2 linked regions of the Homo sapiens genome follow. The protein of the gene in region 2 purifies or fractionates together with the protein of the main gene of each other region. This does not show direct contact. Each region holds a gene or a part of one and is shown on either strand. Other genes may lie near its edges. The genes, in order: EEA1 and SAMD9L.

Evidence for each region.
Region 1: the proteins of SAMD9L (region 2) and EEA1 purify together in Homo sapiens (co-immunoprecipitation; one study listed by IntAct). This does not show direct contact.

Annotation. Positions count from the first base shown.
Region 1 is NC_000012.12:92,852,747-92,856,570, forward strand, and holds part of EEA1 (early endosome antigen 1), read right to left. Parts: intron 1,209-3,824; coding exon 1,169-1,208; intron 280-1,168; coding exon 166-279; intron 1-165. UniProt on the Homo sapiens protein: Binds phospholipid vesicles containing phosphatidylinositol 3-phosphate and participates in endosomal trafficking.
Region 2 is NC_000007.14:93,138,115-93,141,938, forward strand, and holds part of SAMD9L (sterile alpha motif domain-containing protein 9-like), read right to left. Parts: intron 1-3,824. UniProt on the Homo sapiens protein: May be involved in endosome fusion. Mediates down-regulation of growth factor signaling via internalization of growth factor receptors.

The sequences.
Region 1 (3,824 bases), on a different chromosome or scaffold from region 2:
ATAATTTACATAGCAACTCTGAAATCATTAAATTCCATTAATCACCATTGGAAGTCTATCACAAATGCTTTAACACACTAAAATACTATATTTATTGCTAGGGTATATAATGGCAAAAAGGTAATGAGATTGATTTATTGGCTAAAAAATTCTAACTCAATTTACCTGCAATTTCAGTAGCAAGTTGGGCTGCTTTCTGTTCAAATAAGTCTTTCATTTGCTTAATATTAAAATTTTCTGTTTGGGCTTCTTCTAATTGCTGTTCCAAAGACTGTAGTTCTACAAAAAAGTGTCGCAGTTATTCAAATACCATGTTAATTACATATGCTAAATTGTTATTACTTATATTTATTACAGTTGTAAAGATGATCAACTTAAGTTTATTATCCAATTACAAGTAGTATTTTGACACTTCAAGAAATTAAGTATATCTGCTTCACTTAAGGTACAAATCATAATTTACAAACATACACTACAAATGAAATGAATATTTAGAATCACTGCTAAATAATCTATAAATATTTTATTACAAGTTATTTTGATTTCACATTTCACAGTTATTTTCCCATATCCATCAAATGACCAAAAAGGAATACACCCCTTATCTTTTTTTTAAGAGATGGGGTCTCGCTATGTTACGGAGGCTGATCTTAAATTCCTGGGTTCAAGCCATCCTCCCCTATCAGTATCCCAAAGTGTTGGGATTATAGGCATGAGCCACCAAGCCTGGCTCAAAAAGGAAAACATTCTGCTCCTCTGATAAAATTAGTTATAAAGCGGGATGTTGGAAATGGTTAAGATCTCAAGGCCTTTTAATTCATTAAAGTATGCAGTCAACTCCTAATACTTCATCATAAAGAAAATAAACTATCTTACTCTTAATATAGACTTAAAATTTCATTAAACAACCATATTAATGTAATATTCCAGAAGTTTCTTACTTCAAAATATAATGAACTAAAAAAACTAAACTTTTAGTTAACTGATTAAATTATGAAGTTCACATGTAACTCTCTACACCTAGAATATGACCATTATCTTCACTGTTTTAGAGTCATAAAGCATAACCATGAAACAAAATTCATTTGGCAGGCATCAAAGAAAAAGAAAGGAAAACAAATAAGAAGAAAAAGAAAACTGACAAAATATCTGCTTTAAGTAAAGTTACCTGCTGATGAATCAGTCACCAACCCATCAGGTTTGGCCTCCTCAATTAAAACAAAAGACATAAACAAATGAATTAAAAGGAAAAGATAATACTGTTAAAATGGTCAATGTTAAAAAATCTCTGAAAGTCACTTTCTTTCAGGTAAGTAGTAAGATTTTGGTGAAAATTTAAATTTGGTGGTTTCCATTCTTCCAGATCTGTAAGAGACCAGCAGGCAGACTAGCCTAATGATCTAACTTCAGTTTATTAGTTCTAACATAGATTTTTTTGTATGTTAATATATATGAAGTTATTATGGTCATCTTAAATTCCATGAATTCAGTAATAAATAAATAGCACAATTATTGTAATTATAAATATAGATTCTAAAACAAATACTTAAGTCAACTGGCAACATTCAATCGTATTAGTATGTAGCTTTGAAATAACTTCTAACACTAACATAGTTTGCTACATGGATGCTACATATTTTGCTGTCATAAGAACTTGGAGTGTTATCCCCCTCCGCTCAAGCATGTAATACCTGTTAGACCCCATATGTGAGAACTTGGAATGAACTTCTCCTCTCTTCAGTAGTATTACATCAGACCTTATCATACCGCAGATCTGAGCTACTGACCTCAACTACTGGACTTCAAAATACATATTAACCAAAGAGTTTGAAAGATACTTTGAAAGCTTAGGCCATGGCAGGCTGCACTTTTTCAGCTGCTTTCTTTGAGACTGGCAGCTCATGCTGCAATAGGGCCATATCCTATTGGCCTTAGATCTTTGAGTCTCGGCAGCCAACACCTACATCTCCTCTAGCAGCAGGAGATCCCCATTGTCTGGGATCTCCACTGTTTTGGATGCCATCTCTCCAGAGAGACTGCTCATAAAAAAAGGTACACCTCAACCCTTTTAGACTTTACTTTTCACAAAAGCCTGCTTCCATCCTGAGAAAGTGACTAGACTTTAATAATTTTGGAACTCACCCACTATATGGTTAATATACCTCATCTATTGATATTCCCTGTAAGATTTGTTCATGTTATTTCTCTCCCTTTTAAGCACTGTGAACCGAAGAAAATCTCTCTTTGGCAATAAACCATGCAATTCATGAAATCATACTTCAAATCATGCTTCTTATTACAATCAAACAGAACACCTATAATAGTTGAACATTTGCATTAGTTAAAACATGCTATCAAGCTATCACTACTAAAACTTGCATTAGTTAAAACATCCTATCACGGCCGGGCGCGGTGGCTCACGCCTGTAATCCCAGCACTTTGGGAGGCCGAGACGGACGGATCACGAGGTCAGGAGATCGAGACCATCCTGGCTAATATGGTGAAACCCCGTCTCTACTAAAAATACAAAAAATTAGCCGGCCTGATGGCGGACGTGCCTGTAGTCCCAGCTACTAGGAAGGCTGAGGCAGGAGAATGCTGTGAACATGGGAGGCGGAGCTTGCAGTGAGCCGAGATCGCGCGCCACTGCACTCCAGCCTGGGTGACAGAGCGAGACTCTGTCTCAAAAAAAAAAAAAAAAAAAATGCTATCAAACTATCACTACTAAAAAAATTGGCTTTATAAGCATAAATTTTTAATTCAGGACAAGTCAACTTTAAAAGAAGCAGAAATAACAGATTCCATAAGGCTTAATTTGTCACATGTATTAGGAACAAAATAATATACTACCTTGGCATTATTTTTATATTTTAAAGAATTATACCCATCTGAAAGAGTTTAATAAGGCATTTCCTAGTATATCTGACTTTTTGTTTCTCTATACATTGAACTAAGACATACTGATTGCTAAGAACCTTAAGTATTTAAAATATATTTTCCCCAAAAGGTAAATTTCCTGCCAAGGTAACTTACATCTTGCACTGTGGAAAAGTTATTTAAGTGTATTAAATGTGAAATAGTCATCTCAAATGCAGTAAACAATTTCCACTCTGCTTTCAGATACAGAAAAGAATACAGCCCATACTCAATTAATTATTAATGGCATCTATATAAAACATGAGTAAATGAGTTATAAGTAATTTGGATTACTAAAAACTCCTTTAATGTTAACAGAATCACCAATTAGAAAAGCTGAGTAGTAATAAGACTGATTATCTTGTCATTTATTTATTTGTTTTTGTCTTTTTCAGTCCAACTGCCAATTCTTGGTGCAAAGGCTTTAAAAAGCAAACAAGCCTCACTGAAAGTCACAATATGCCAAGATAACATGCAAAGGGATTATTAATTACTTTACAAAAATATTAGAACTATTGCTGAAGGGTAACTACTTTTATTCTTACAAATGATGACTATGGTAAAATTATTTGGTAAAACTTCGTTAATCTTTGATTCTTCCTATAATTTCAGAATAAAATCAATATAATTTCAGCATAAAAATCATAATTAAGGCATTTACTTAGAAAATACACTAAACTATATAGAATCTAAGACATCAAAAAAATCCTATTCAAAGAGAACCACTTTTGATACTGCAGTGATTTTCTTCTGTTTTTCTCTATGTATTATTTTTATGTAAAGTCATACAGAATATGAGTGTGTGTGCATGTATGTACAAATACACATTTTTTAGTTTTTTAAAAACTTAACATTGTTAATAGAACAGGTTTCCCAGTTTTCAATCTTCACTAACATAATACATAATA
Region 2 (3,824 bases):
TAGCAGAACCATGAGCAACTGGCACAATGAACGCTATAAACGTATTTTAGATGATCAATTCAGTTCATCTGTAGTGTAGACAGAAGTCACTTGTGGGTCTTAAGGAGTCCCACAAAAATTAGCCCATATATTGTAACTAGCGATAAGTGTTATTTATCTTAAGTAGTGTCATCTGTTCATTCATTCTACACATATTTAATGAGCACCAATTATGTACCAGGCATCATGCTCAGGAAAAACAGTGATAATCAAAACAGATGTGAAGCTCGTTCATGACATTTATTGTCCATTGGAGAAGATAAAAAAAGGAAATAAGTCACACACACACACACACACTCAGAAAAGTTTGTACTGACAAAGTGTGGTAGTGCTTTTTGTCAGACACAAGAAGGAGTCTAGGCCTAGGATATATGAGGAAGAAGAGAGTGGGAACATTGGGCAGGTGAAGTTAAGGGAACTGCTGGAGTCATGTGGGAGGCAATTGAGGGAGAAAGCCTGGGGGACAGAGTTAGGGAATAAGAAATAGTCTACTTGGTGGACCTGCCAAAGGCCCCTTTAGTGGGTCTAAGGGGTATGACATAGCGCTGTTCCAGCAGTGGGCAGCTCCTACTCTTGCACCCAGAGCCAGGGCACTGGGCCTGCCATAGAGTACTCCAGGGCAGATGGAGCTTGGGAGCCCGGTAGGCTCATCCCTGATATTCCCATCTCTCTGCCGAGGCCCTAAGTGTCATCTCAGGTAAGACCGACAGAGGGGCCCTGCCTCACCTTTTTACAAGCATTATATAAAACCAATAGTATAAGCAGTTATTAATAAACATATCCTTAATGAAAACTTTTTTGAAGTCATTACATATGAGATAACTACCATAGTATTTTAAATCTTAGTCTTAAGATATTTCATACTTTGAAAATTTGCTGAATACTTACTTTTTATATATTTTATACAGTTTTTAGACATTTTAATATATTTTGTATTAAATACATTTTGTATTAAAATGTAGGAAGCTGAAGGGAAGAGGACACTTGTGTCCTCAGATACCATTTCTGTCATAATTATTGGTGGCTCAATAGACATGTCATTGATCCTTCCAATACAATGGCCTCTCACCCGATCGACTTTTATCTTGACATCAACCCACCTCTATTCCCACGGTCATATCCTTGACCTTATCATTACTATTATGGATTGAATTATATCGCGCCAAAGTTCAGGCACTGAAGTCCTAACCTCCAGCACCTTAGAATGTGACTTTATTTGGAGACAGGATTGTTGTAGATGTAATTAGTTGACATGAAGTTATAGTGGACCCTAATCCAATATGACTGAGGTTTTTGTGAAAAGGGGAAACTTGGGCACAGAGGCTTGCTTACACACCGGGAGAACAGTATGTGAAGACGAAGGCAGAGGTTAGTGTGATGTTTCTACAAGCCAAGAATCACCAAAGATTGCCAGCATGCTACTGTGAGAGGCATGGAAGAAATTCTCCCTTGCAGCCCTCAGAAGGAACCCTCCCTGCCAATAGCTTGATCTTGGACTTCTAGTTGCAAGGGTTCTGAGATAATACATTTCTGTTGTTGAAGTGACTCTGTGCTACTTTGTTATGGCAGCTCTAGCCAATAAATACGGTTACTGAGAACTACAAGCCCTCCGTCCTCTCTGTTTCAAACACTTCCCTGTCCCCACCATCTCCTGCCCCTCAGACCCACTGCCTTTAGTGCTCAAACACTAGTAAGTATTTCTTTACCACCAACACCTTTGATCTATTGATTCTACTACTGTCTCACTTTTCCTCACTCCATTCATGTTTCACTTTTCCTCTTTTACTGACTTAATATTTCTTTGATTATTCATTATCATGACTTATTTTTCTCCTCTCTGGTACACTCTTATAGTTAAACTACAATGCTAGTTACATCCACCACTCAGTCCCCACTCAGTCCCCACTCAGTCCCCAACAGCTTGTCAGAGCATGGCTGGAGAATGGCCCTCCATACCCTGACTGGAACATGGCTGGACAATGGCCCTCTGCACCCTGACTGGAGCATGCTGGACAATGGCCCTCCATACCCTGACTGGAACATGGTTGGACAATGGGCCTCCACACTGACTGGAGCATGCTGAACAATGGCCCTTCATACTCTGACTGGAGCATGCTGGACAATGGCCCTCCACACCCTGACTGGAACATGGCTGGACAATGACCCTCCACACCCTAACTGGAGCATGCTGGACAGTGGCCCTCCATACCCTGACTGGAGAATTGCTGGACAATGGCCCTCCACACCCTGACTGGAACATGGCTGGACAATGGCCCTCCATACCATGACTGGTCTCACCTTAATGCTGTCAGCTACCATGCTTTATTTCTCTGCGTTAGTCAACCTCTTCACTTGCAGTAGTCACTCTCTTATTCTCCTAAACAATCATTTCACTGTCTCTCCTCTCTCATCAAACTTACAACACCTCCTCACCACGGTCACCTTGTTTCCCATTTAAACCGGCAGAATTGAAGGAATCCAAAGAGAGCTTCTCCAAACTCCTGAAACCACATCTACCCATCAACCTGCGTCTTCACTTTTCTTCTGTTACTACATCATATGTTAGTTTCTGTTCTCTGCATGTTCTGCCCACATGCCTAGTGAGGTCAACCTCTCCACTTGCAGTAGCCCTTGCATCCCTCTCACCTATTCAGGAAGTTGCTCCAGAAAGTGTCCCCACTCTATTTGGCTTCTTCAGTCTTTCCTCATCTACTAGATCTCCTTCAGCAATCAAGCATGTTTATTTTTTTCATGTTAAGCAAGACTCTTTGGAAACAACTCTTCCCCACATTTGTGCTTTTCTTCACAGTAGATCTGTCTACACTTTCTGTTTCCTGTTTCTCTTCTTCCACTCACTTTAGAAGGCACTCCAATCAGGCTTTGGCCTCACTCCTCCACTAAAATTGCACTTGGTATTGCTACAGACAGTTCTTGACAGAACAGCAGCACTTGAAACAAGTGATTGCTCTCTTTTCCTTGGATCACTCTCCTTGCAGGCTTTTGGGACACTACCTTTCCTGATTTTTCCTCCTCCTTTTCTGGCTAGTCCTTCTCAGTTTCCTCTGCTGGTTCTTCCTTAACTCTCCACCTCTAAATGTTGACGTGCCTCTCAGACCTAGCCTCTTTTCTATCTAGAGTTTTATCTAGAGTTTCTCCCTATGAATCTCATCTATCTTGCATTTAAACGCAATCTGTATGCCTGTGACTTCCAAATTAACATGATCGGCCCTGGCTTCTGCCATGATGTCCATATATCTGCCTTCTCTATGTTCACCTAGGTATATGACAGTCCTAAAACGAACATGGCCAAAATTGATCTCCTGATATATGCCCCTCCCACTCCAAACTTGCTCCTCCTACAGTCTTATCAGTTAATGGAACTTGTCAATTGTTCAAGGCAAAAACCTTGGCAGCATTTTTTACTGCTTTTTTTTTCACTCATTGTATTAGCAAATACTTTCAATCACACCTTCACAGTATATCCATAATTCCACCCTTTCCCACTATCCCTACTGCTACCACCCTGTTCTAGGCCATCATCTCTTTCCTGGATTATTTTTGTTACCTGGTCTCTTTGACTCTGGCTTTGCCCCACCACCATGCCATTCACTCTATTTTCAACACAACAGCCAACCTGGTCCTGTTCAAAAGTGTAAGTGTGATCATGTCACTGACTCTTAGTCAGTGTCCTCTGCTCAAAACTTTTATCTGACTTCTCATCTCGCATGGAGTAAAAGCCAAAGTCCTTAAATAAGGTCTGACATGATATGTCCACCCCACTGTCT